Homo sapiens: one gene and its partners. The protein of the gene in region 1 purifies or fractionates together with the protein of each later gene. This does not show direct contact. Each region holds a gene or a part of one and is shown in the gene's direction. Other genes may lie near its edges.

Region 1 (3,736 bases):
TAAGTAGCATTTTTTTGTGTGTGCTTATTTGCCATTTAGGTAAAAATTTTCTTCTCACTGATTTCTGCTTTGATCTTTATTATTTACTGTCTTCTTATAGTAGGTTAAATTTGCTTTTTTAGTTTCTTATATTGAAAGCTGATATGTTGATTTGAAACCTTTTTTTCTAATAAAAGTTATACTATTAATATGTGAGATGATTTGGCAACATCCCGTCATATTTTGAGATACTACTTTTTGTTTCCATTCAGTTAAAAATAGTTTCTAAATTGTCTTTTGCATTCTTTGATTCATTGATTATTTACATGTGTCATTTAGTTTTCAACATTTGTGAATTTTTCAGACATTTTTATTATTGATTTCTAATTTAATTTCATTTTCATTAGCGAATTATTTTGTATAATTTAAAACTTAAATTTATTGACATCAGTGTTATGGACTAGACTATAGTGTGTTTTTAAAAATGTTTTAGGTGTATTTGATCAGAAATGTTTATTCTGCTGTTTTCTATGTATTCTATGTGATAACCTTTGAAATACAAAGTTTTGTAATATGGCTGGTAGAAACAGGCAAAATACTAGACCCTATGTTAGCACTAAGTATTGTTTACCCTAAATCTTTTCAGACAGTTCTTTCTCCATCCTGGAGTAGTTTTTTACATACATGCATTAGTAAGTACTCTGCTGAATATTCAAAGGTGACCTTCTGCATATCTTTACATTTCTTTATTTCTTCAAATCTCTTATCTCCATTTCTGTGTCCGGTGAACTACAGCTTGGTCTTTCTGGATTCTGAAGTGTCCCATGTCTGTAGTTTTTATAGCCTGCTCTTTTACCCACTTGATTGCACAGAGCAATTCAGCACACCCAGACTAAGTGACAACATCTTAATGTTCACTGATCTTATGAATATAGTTGTAATTCTCCAGATTAATGCTAGAGTATTCAAGAAAGGTCATTTCTACCATTTGAAAGATCTGACCTGTCACTACACTGTTCAGTAATTTCTTCATTCAGCTACAACGATCAGGAATGAAACCTAAGCATTTTGTCACTACTGCTTTTCCTTTTTTCAGTCTCATAATATCACAAATATTGCAGAAGTCCTCTAGATTGTAAATATTATAATTCTTTATTTCAAGGGGACTTTAGATATTTGAATTTCCAATTCTTCAATGTAATAAAAAGTCACAACAATATCAATGTTAAAATTAGGTTAATTAGGTGCTTCCTGTCTGTCAGACACAGATTTAAGCACTTAAATGTATCCTTTCATTAAATATACTTAACAATCCTGTATACAGGTGTTATTTTAACCTAATTCTAATGGTATACAACAGAATCTTAACATGTTAAATAACTCACTTAAGTTACAAAATGAATAATTGTTGCAATGAGGACTCAAATATATATATTTCTGGCTCTGGAGCCAGACTTACTATTAAATGACTAAAAAAGTGCTCTTTTCGCTGATTTTTAAATTTACTTTGCTACTTTAATGATTAATTGGCAATGATCAATGCACAACCTTTTACTCTCATGTGTTATTTTCAATTTTCCCCTTGTGTTTATTGTAGCAAGAACTCCCTACCTTCCTTCCTTATTATCTATTTGTAATTTGGAAGCCCCAGTATACCTTAGAATTGATCCAGGATGGCCTCATTTATGTATGGCTTGAGAGTTTTTTTAACAGAAAAAACATTGATTCTCTAAAAAATAAGAGTTTATATCATAGTTTCTCAATATTTTCCTATCTACAAGGACAAAATTTTTTTTCAGAAGCAAAACAACTAGCATACTAACTTTCTGTTTATGCATGTAGTAAATATTGGTTGATTACTGCACAATTTCCAGGAATTATGCAGAGATAACTACAGAGATGAGTAGAATAAAACTCATTTTAGAGCTTCAAACTCTAGTCAGAGATGTAGTTACAAACAAATAATCCAGTGTAGTTAGTTAGGTACTCTGGCAGAAGTGTAATGAAAGTAGTATGAAAAAACAGAGAAAGAAATCGAAGGAACACATGGACAAAGTGATATTAAAAAGAATGAGGCCGGGTGCAGTGGCTCACGCCTGTGATCCCAGCACTTTGGGAGGACCTGAGGTCAGGAGTTCAAGTCCAGCTTGGCCAACATGGTGAAAGCTCATCTTTACTAAAAATACAAAAATTAGCCAGATGTGGTGGCAAGTGCCTGTAACCCCAGCTACTCCTGAGGCTGAGGGGCAGCAGAATTGCTTGAACCCAGGAGGTGGAGGTTGCAGTGAGCCGAGATTGCGCCACTGCACTCCAGCCTGGCTGACAAGAGCAAAACACTGTCAAAAAAAAAAAAAAGAGAGAGAGGAAAGAAAGAAAAAAAGAACGAGACTCTAATGTAGACTGAACCTAGTAAGAGCAGTTATTAAAAAATCTCAGCTGGGGCCGGGTGCAGTGGCTCACACCTGTAATCCCAGCACTTTGGGAGGCCGAGGTGGGTGTATTGCTTTAGGTCAGGAGTTTATAACCAGCCTGGCAACGTAGTGAAACACCATCTCTACTAAAAATAAAAAAATTAGCCGGATGTGGTGGCACATGCCTGTAATCCCAGCTACTTACGAAACTGACACAGGAGAATCACTTGAACTTGGGAGGCAGAGTTTGCAGTGAGCCGAGATTGAACCAGTGCACTCCAGCCTTGGCAGCGGAGCAAGATTCTGTCTAAAAACAAACAAACAACAAAACAAAAACTCTTTAAGAATAGTTTTCTCCCTACAGTGGCCGATTGTTCAGTTACAGAACAGAGATCATTACATCGTCTTTTTAAATAGGGATAGCATCAGACCATAATCTTTTTATTTTTTTGTCAATTTTACATTGAAGTGACATCCTCACTCTTTCTTGAGCTTTCTATTTCCCATCTCTTATGAAAGAAAACAAAGTATCATTATTAATCATATAACTCCAAAAGATTAAAGATGCCAGAGTAAAACACATATATAGATATAGAAATCTCCACATGGAATGCCTAAACATATGCACACACACACACACACACACTTATACACACTTGTGAATGTGTGTATGTATGTATTAGATTTGAAATTTTATTTTCATTTCCTTACCAAGTAAAATTGCATATATCTGAAGAAAATGTTTTATTTTTCCACAAAACACAGTATCAAATTCTAAATTGAACACTGAATTTATTTCTCACTTAAATATTTGTTTTAAAATAAACATTCTAAAGTTTTCATTTAACTTGGGTATACATATGAAGAGATTTTAGACTTCAGAATTGGCTAGTTTCTGATGTATGATAAAAAGAGTGGCGCATTATTTATAATTTTTATTTTTATTATCTGAGTTGGCTATATTTTGTTTATGAATTAGGACCAGGCATGGTCCATAATCTCCTAAAATGGTATTAAGTTCCTGTATTTGAAGTTCAATAGGTATGATTCATTTTTATTTTCCCGCGTTAATAAAATCATGTATGTAATTTGTAATTGTCTCTCCTCTAGACTAACAATAATTGAAATGCAGAAGGGAGACTGTGCACTCTATGCCTCGAGCTTTAAAGGCTATATAGAAAACTGTTCAACTCCAAATACGTACATCTGCATGCAAAGGACTGTGTAAAGATGATCAACCATCTCAATAAAAGCCAGGAACAGAGAAGAGATTACACCAGCGGTAACACTGCCAACTGAGACTAAAGGAAACAAACAAAAACAGGACAAAATGACCAAAGACTGTC
Region 2 (3,736 bases), on another chromosome or scaffold:
ATCAGCTTACCAGGTAGCATAACCACTGTCACCCTCAAGGACTTCTCAATACAGAGAAGGAGGGGGTGACACAGAATGTAAAAATTAAAATTATGAATTTAATAGAGACCACAATATAAGGAATTTGGCAATAAAAAAGATAAATGGGTTAGAAGGTATTTTCTAAAGAATTCAAAAAATGTTTTAAGTGATAGAAACATTGTCAAAATAAGTGTATCACCTTCTAAAATGACATTTTGAAAAAGTAAAATTGATAATGTTAATAAATTATAGTATGTCAGACCCTGTCAAACTGTCCTCCATGAGAACACATTAGGCACAGCTATAGAGATAATTCACATATTGGAAAATAGAAGCAAAGAAACTAACTAGAATACAGACCTGGAAAACACAGAGATTGAAAATATGAAAAGGAGATTTAGTAACACAGAGCATAGAGAGAAAAAGCATACCATATAGTTAGCCAGAGTTCCTAAAGAAAATAGTCCCAGTTTCTTCAGGAACTCTGGCTAACTATATGGTACGCTTATACCATATAAGCATATCATATGGTGTAAGGGGGACTATTTGAAGACATAATAGCTGAGAACTTTCCAGAATTGAAGAAAGGCACCAAGCCATGATTTAAGAAGCCCAACAAACCCAAGCAAGAATTCTTTCTAGACATATTGTAGTGAAACTGTGGGACAATAAATATAAAATCTTAAAAGACAGAGGAAAAAGGGGCCGGGTACGGTGGCTCACGCCTGTAATCCCAGCACTTTCGGAGGCTGAGGTGGGTGGATCACCTGAGGTTGGGAGTTCGAGACCAGCCTGACCAACATGGAGAAACCCTGTCTCTACTAAAAATACAAAACTAGCCGAGCGTGGTGGTGCATGCCTGTAATCCCAGCTACTCAGGAGGCTGAGGCAGGAGAATCGCTTGAACTTGGGAGGTAGAGCTTGCGGTGAGCCAAGACCGTACCACTGCACTCCAGCCTGGGCAACAAGAGCAAAACTCCATTTAAAAAAAAAAAAGTAGAGAAAAAAGGCCTCAAAGGAGCAACTATGAGAGTGATAGCCAATTAGTCTTCAACCATAATATAAATATAGAGACAGTGGTAATTATTTCAATATGCTAGGAAAAAACCCTCAGTCTAGATTTATACCCAACAAACATAGGTTCTTTGTCCTTGCCAAGAACAAAGATGAAATAAATACATATTCAGACAAGGAAAGCTGAGTAAGTTTGCCAGCAGACCTCCAATAAAGGAATTCTAAGTTCAGAGAGAAGGAAATTATTTTCAAACGGAAGGTCTGAGAAGCTAGAAGGAATGAAGAACAAAAAGTGTTAAATATGTATGTACATGTTAATCTGATAATGTCTTTTGGGATTAATAGAGATGGAACAAAAATAGAAGACAATAATAGCATATAAATTATGAAGTGAGGCCGGGTGTGGTGGTTTATGCCTGTAATCCCAGCACTTTGGGAGGCCGAGGCGGGCGGATCACTTGAGGTCAGGAGTGTGAGACCAGCCTGGCCAACCTGATGAAACCCTGTCTCTACTAAAAATACAAAAAAATTAGCCTGGTGTGGTGGCATACACCTGTAATCTCAGCTACTTGGGAGGCTGAGGCAGGAAAATCACTTGAACCTGGGAGGCAGAGGTTGCAGTGAGCGGAGATCACATCACTGCACTCCAGCCTGGGTGACAGAGTGAGACTCCATCTCAAAGTAAAATAAAAATAAATGATAAGTGACATTCTAAGTTTTTATGTATTTGGGGGGATAATAATATATGTTAACTTTGGGCTTTAATAGGTATTTAAAATTTTCAAGGAACCAAAAGACAAGAAAGATTATAATTTCCAGACTAGTACAAGAAAAAGTACAGAATGAGAAAAAAATTCCAAAAGAAGGCAAGAAAGGAAAAGAAAAAAAGACAAGATATAATAAATAAAAAGCACAAAGAATAGCTGAAAATAAATCCAAACATTACTAGTTGCAATAACTATAAGGTACTAAATATTCTAATTAAAAGACAAAGAGTAGCTTGGCGCAGTGGCTCACGCCTACAATCCCAACATTTTGGGAAGCCAAGGCAGGTGGATCACTTGAGCCCAGGAGTTTGAGACCACCCTGGGCAACATAAGGAGACCCTGTCTCTACAAAAAGTACAAAAATTAGCTGGTTGTGGTGACGTGTCCCTTTGTCCCAGCTACTCAGGTGGCTGAGGCAGGAGGACCACTTGAGCTCGGAAGGTGGAGGCTGCAGTGAACCAGGATTGTGCCACTGCACTCCAGCCTGGGCAACAGAGACCCTGTCTTGCAAAAAATAAAATAAAATTAAAAAATAAATAAAAGAACAGTACCTCTTAAAATCTTACTCTTAATGGCATTCGTAGACTACATTCAGGCCTGCTATTCAGCTGATACTGGTTCAGCTATACTAGTTGTTAAAATATTGATATGTCCATAGTGGTTGAACAGTTACTGTCCCAAGCCTGTTAAGTGTCATCTTAATGCTTCATCGCCTTCCTTGGGACTTCCTATAGTAACCAATTATATAGCAACTAAAGAGTTAAGAACTAGGACAGCAAGAGACTGTCAGCAAACATCTCACTGGAGAACTACAGGGCAGCAGCCATTCTAATTACTCCTCACCCGTGCCTGGCAACCTCCAACACACAAAAAAATCCATAGGCCCAGTGACCATCTGGCTTCCCTAAGAGTAGGGCTGCCTACCTTTCTCATATCACTCTCACATGGCCCCTTTGGGAACTACAGCCCCGGGAGATCCAGAAAGAAGAGCAGTCAAATGAGAGTAATAGTACTGTACTACCGCAGTTGCCATCAAAATATATTAATTCTCTTGGCACAGTATACATTCCCATGGCAGGATAGAATCTACAGCAGATGATCGAGGCCTGTGGGGATGGTTTATGGATGAATAACTTCTGGGATGCACATCCTTAGTTTTATCATTCTTGTTTAATTTCCCCATTATTTAGATAGGATAAGTGTGCCAACACCCAATGAATACCTGCCTACAGTAGGCATTAATGACACTCATGTTATAAATGAAAATGACTACCAAAATACATCTTTTTCTGTCTACCAGACACATTTAGTTGGGGGAATTAAGAAGCAGAAAGTTTATTAAATGAAGGTTCTGTACCTTGGTGTATGCTGTTAACTGCTGTGTTACGTTACCTCTCACCTGGACTGAGGGATTAGGTTTAATATAATTAAGTATATCAATAAATTATTTTTGTGACTTAGTTATTAATATATTTAAACAAATATTGACTATATGAAACTAACAGCAAGCATTTGAAGGGCTAAAAACATTTTAAAATATACTTACTGTTACTTCAGCAAAAGCCAAAAAGAGGATTCAGCTCCCATGAACAATTCTGTTGATGTTAAGAGTGATTTCTTTTTTTTAGGCCAGGTATGGCAGCTCATGCCTATAATCCTAGCACTTTGGGAGGCTGAAGGTGGAGGATTGCTTGAGCTCGAGTTCAAGACCAGCTGGGGCAACATAGGGAGACCTTGTCTCTACAAAAAATTTTAAAAAGTGTGATTTTTTTTAACGTATCATGACTACAAGTTATTTAATGACTATAAATTTAATGTGGACATTCTTAGAAGGGCTTTATCTAGTTTCCTATGTCAATTCATGGTTCAGACAAGGGCATCTGTGTCAAATAAAAGATTATGGCTACAATTTCCAAAAATTAATAAATGATTGA
Region 3 (3,500 bases), on another chromosome or scaffold:
CAGTGATTTAAAATAATCTGGCATTTTAATTATATCAAGTGTTTGTTGTATTTGTCTAGGTCCTGCAAGTATAGGTTTACTTAGCCCAGGAATACTGGAATACTTGCTACAGTGTCTGGTAAGTGAGACATCAAAACTATTTATTCTTAGTCATCTAGAAGTGGGCATCATCTAGAACTGTGCATTTTCTCAAATTGCTGGCATAGCCACTGGCACAGAGAATGGAATCAATTGTAAATTTTATTTGCAGGTGTTTCCCGAGTGCTTATTTATTCCCTCCTATGTTTAAAAAAGAGAGTGGGATTGGAATTTATCCCAACCAGCAAAAACAGCTGAGTTAGTCTGGTTTTAAATTTAGTCATAAGATAGCTGCTATGATTGGCTCTTTTGCATGTTCCTTGAGTTTGCCAAATGGTAATAGGGACCTCCACAGTAGAAACAATTACATGGCGTTCCAAGCCAGGAGGCCATCAAGTCAGATTCCCAGTATATATAAATCTCTACTCCTCCCTGCCCTCCCCCTCACTGCTACTCTTAAAACTGTTGTCACTGGAATATTTAATATATTGTCTATGAAGCTTCTGGTTTGCTGAGGCTGTGCCCTCAGATCTCTCATAGTTCTGGCCTGTGGTCTTGAATGGTCTGTATTTTTAAAAGTTATTTTTGTAGGCCTAGTGAGCATTGGCCCTTTTCAAAACTCTGGTCTGAAAACCCTTATTTGTCAATACCCACTGATACGTGCTTAAAACACTTACCTTACTCTCAATGAGCACTCTGGGGATACAACATGGCAGTCCTATGATTTCAAGAGGTTTATTGGTTAGTTGAGGAAACAAAACTACTCAGACAAGGTAATTAGCCTCCATTTTATCACAGGATGTGATCATGGGAGAAAGTACTTCATCAAGACTAAATGAGGGCCGGGCACGGTGGCTCATGCCTATAAGCCCGGCATTTTGGGAGGCTGAGGTGGGCTGGTCACCTGAGGTCAGGAGTTCAAGACCAGCCTGGCCAACATGGCGAAACCTGGTCCCTACTAAAAATACAAAAATTAGCTGGGCATGGTGGCATGTGTGTGTAGTCCCAGCTACTCAGGAGGCTGAGGCAGGAATTCACTTGAACCCAGAAGGCAGAGATTACAGTTAGCTGAGATCTCACCACTGCCCTCCAGCCTGGGCGACAGAGCGAGACTCCATCTCAAAAAAAAAAAAAGACTAAATGAGAAGGTGGGTGGTATGGGTAATGAGAGCCGGGGTGTCATGAAAGTCAGACTTCCTGATGAAGGTGGACCCTCAGCTGGGTCATGCTATAGATGAGGATTTTATTGTGCCCAGAGGAGGGAAAAAATTGGTTTCTTAGCTAAGGGAACATCACAGGCAGAAGTCCAGAGACAGAGAATTGTCTGATGAGAGAAGACAGTGTTCAGAGATAGGACACAGACTGAGTAGCCAGCTAGAAAGGGTTTAGGGCCTGAAAAGCCAGGCAGAGGGATTTAGATGGATATGAGAAGAAATAGAATGCTGAATAGGCTTTCCAGCAGCAGGGATGGTGGTTATGTGAGGTTTCCAGAACTTAGGAGGTACCAGGGAAGTCAGTGGGAATCATCTGATGTTCTGGAGCTCCTCTGGTGGCTCCCAATGTAGCAGTAGGGAAAGCACAGCTATGAGAAGGTGTCATGTTCAACAGATAGACCTTTCCTTAAAGGGGAACTCATGTGACATGAGCTTAAATGTAACTAAAAGAGTTCACTTGTTGCTTTCTCCTGTCTACCATCAGCATTTGTAGAATTCCTTTCAGGGAACAGCTTAAAAACTGAGCCATTAATTGTTAATTTAATTATTTATAATTTTGCAACTTGTTAGTGATAAGTGGTTCTTTTTAGGATTCTAAGTAAAATATCATTTTTAGTTTATAATTCTAGGTTTCTGTTTGGCTTGCATAAATGAATGTGAGAATGAATATTTTATTTAACAAAGCCCTAATGTAAGTTTTATTAAGTAAAATAACATAGTGTATTTAACAGGATACTTTTGAAATTTCCAAATCTATAAATTAACCTAGTGACTTTAAGAAAAAAATACAAGATTAAGAGAGCCTGTCCAGTTCATTACTAACATTATTAGCCAAATGGATAATTGAGAACTTGAATGAATGAAACTTTTCTGACCACTCGAAAAAACATCTAGCACATATTGGGCAAGGAAATGAAACTGATAACTTGCCACCTCTGCAGGGGAATGATTTTTTTTTTTTTTTTTTATCTTTTGTTGTTTTTCAGAAGTTACAGTCCCACCCCACAGTCATGCTTTTTGCACTTATCGCACTGGAAAAGTTTGCACAGACAAGTAGGTATAGTGACTTCTTGCACTAATGATCTTCTGTATTGGTTGTTAAAAATTTTATTTTTCTTAGTTACTGGATAAGCCTACACTTTGAACCCCATCAGATGGGCATACATTCTGTTTTCATCTGGATAGACACGTTAAAGCCAATGAAGTATAACAGGGACAAAGGCAAGGATTTTCTCACCTAAGAATCAAAACTTGGTAACCATGTTTACTCACTTTTTATAGCCAAAAATTTAGTGATGTGATTGCTAGTTTCTAGAAAAAAGTATGGTGGCTCTTGCCCATAATCCCAGCACTTTGGGAAGCTAAGGCCAGAGCATTGCTTCAGGCCAGGAATTCGAGACCAGGGTGGGCAGCATAGCAAGACTCAATCTCTACAAAAAATTTTAAAAAATCAGCCAGGCATGGTGGCATGCACCTATGTTCCTAGCTACTTGGGATGCTGAGGCGGGGGGATCACTTGAGCCCAGTAGTTCAAGGTTACAGTGATCCATAGTTGTGCCACTGCACTCCAGCCTAGGCAACAGAGTGAGACCCTGTGACTAAAAAAAAGGAAAACAAAATAGTCAAAGCTCTTTGGCTATGTTTTCCCTAGAAATTTTAATTGAAGTCTAATCTAGTCTCCAATTCTTTAATTGCCTCTTCCCCCTCCTTAGCAATACTAATTTGCTGAGCAAATCATTCTACCCTTTCATTGTTAATTCAAGGATTATGTCTTTCCAAACAGGTGAAAATAAATTGACTATTTCTGAATCCAGTATTAGTGACCGGCTTGTCACATTGGAGTCCTGGGCTAATGATCCTGATTATCTGAAACGTCAAGTTGGTTTCTGTGCCCAGTGGAGCTTAGACAATCTCTGTAAGTGGGAGTTGTCCTTTATTAAAATGTCCGTTTCCATTTCCAGACTCATTTCTTTCATAGGCTCACTGGTCTTCCTTTTGCAATGGTAAGTATGAGTCCTCATAAGGACCTCTACTGGCAGGTTGGATATATTCTAGCAGAAAAGTATCCTAGAGACCCTTTAGACAAGAATTACATGGTATGCTTCTAATTTCAGCATTTTCCTGTTCAAAAACCTTTACTGGCACCCAGTTTCCTGCTGCATCAAAGCCCTTAATTATATGGCACTGTCTAACCAGCTCTTTCCAACA

Evidence for each region.
Region 2: the proteins of KLRK1 (region 1) and DCAF10 purify together in Homo sapiens (affinity purification with mass spectrometry, with the first as the bait; one large-scale study listed by BioGRID). This does not show direct contact.
Region 3: the proteins of KLRK1 (region 1) and RSPRY1 purify together in Homo sapiens (affinity purification with mass spectrometry, with the first as the bait; one large-scale study listed by BioGRID). This does not show direct contact.

The regions. Positions count from the first base shown.
Region 1 is NC_000012.12:10,372,996-10,376,731, reverse strand, and holds part of KLRK1 (NKG2-D type II integral membrane protein), read left to right. Parts: intron 1-2,595; exon of another isoform or gene 2,596-2,697; intron 2,698-3,500; coding exon 3,501-3,618; 3' UTR 3,619-3,736. Other genes in the region: KLRC4-KLRK1 (NKG2-D type II integral membrane protein), read left to right, coding at 3,501-3,618.
Region 2 is NC_000009.12:37,803,771-37,807,506, forward strand, and holds part of DCAF10 (DDB1- and CUL4-associated factor 10), read left to right. Parts: intron 1-3,736. UniProt on the Homo sapiens protein: May function as a substrate receptor for CUL4-DDB1 E3 ubiquitin-protein ligase complex.
Region 3 is NC_000016.10:57,213,829-57,217,328, forward strand, and holds part of RSPRY1 (RING finger and SPRY domain-containing protein 1 isoform 1 precursor), read left to right. Parts: intron 1-59; coding exon 60-118; intron 119-2,278; coding exon 2,279-2,345; intron 2,346-3,075; coding exon 3,076-3,207; intron 3,208-3,500.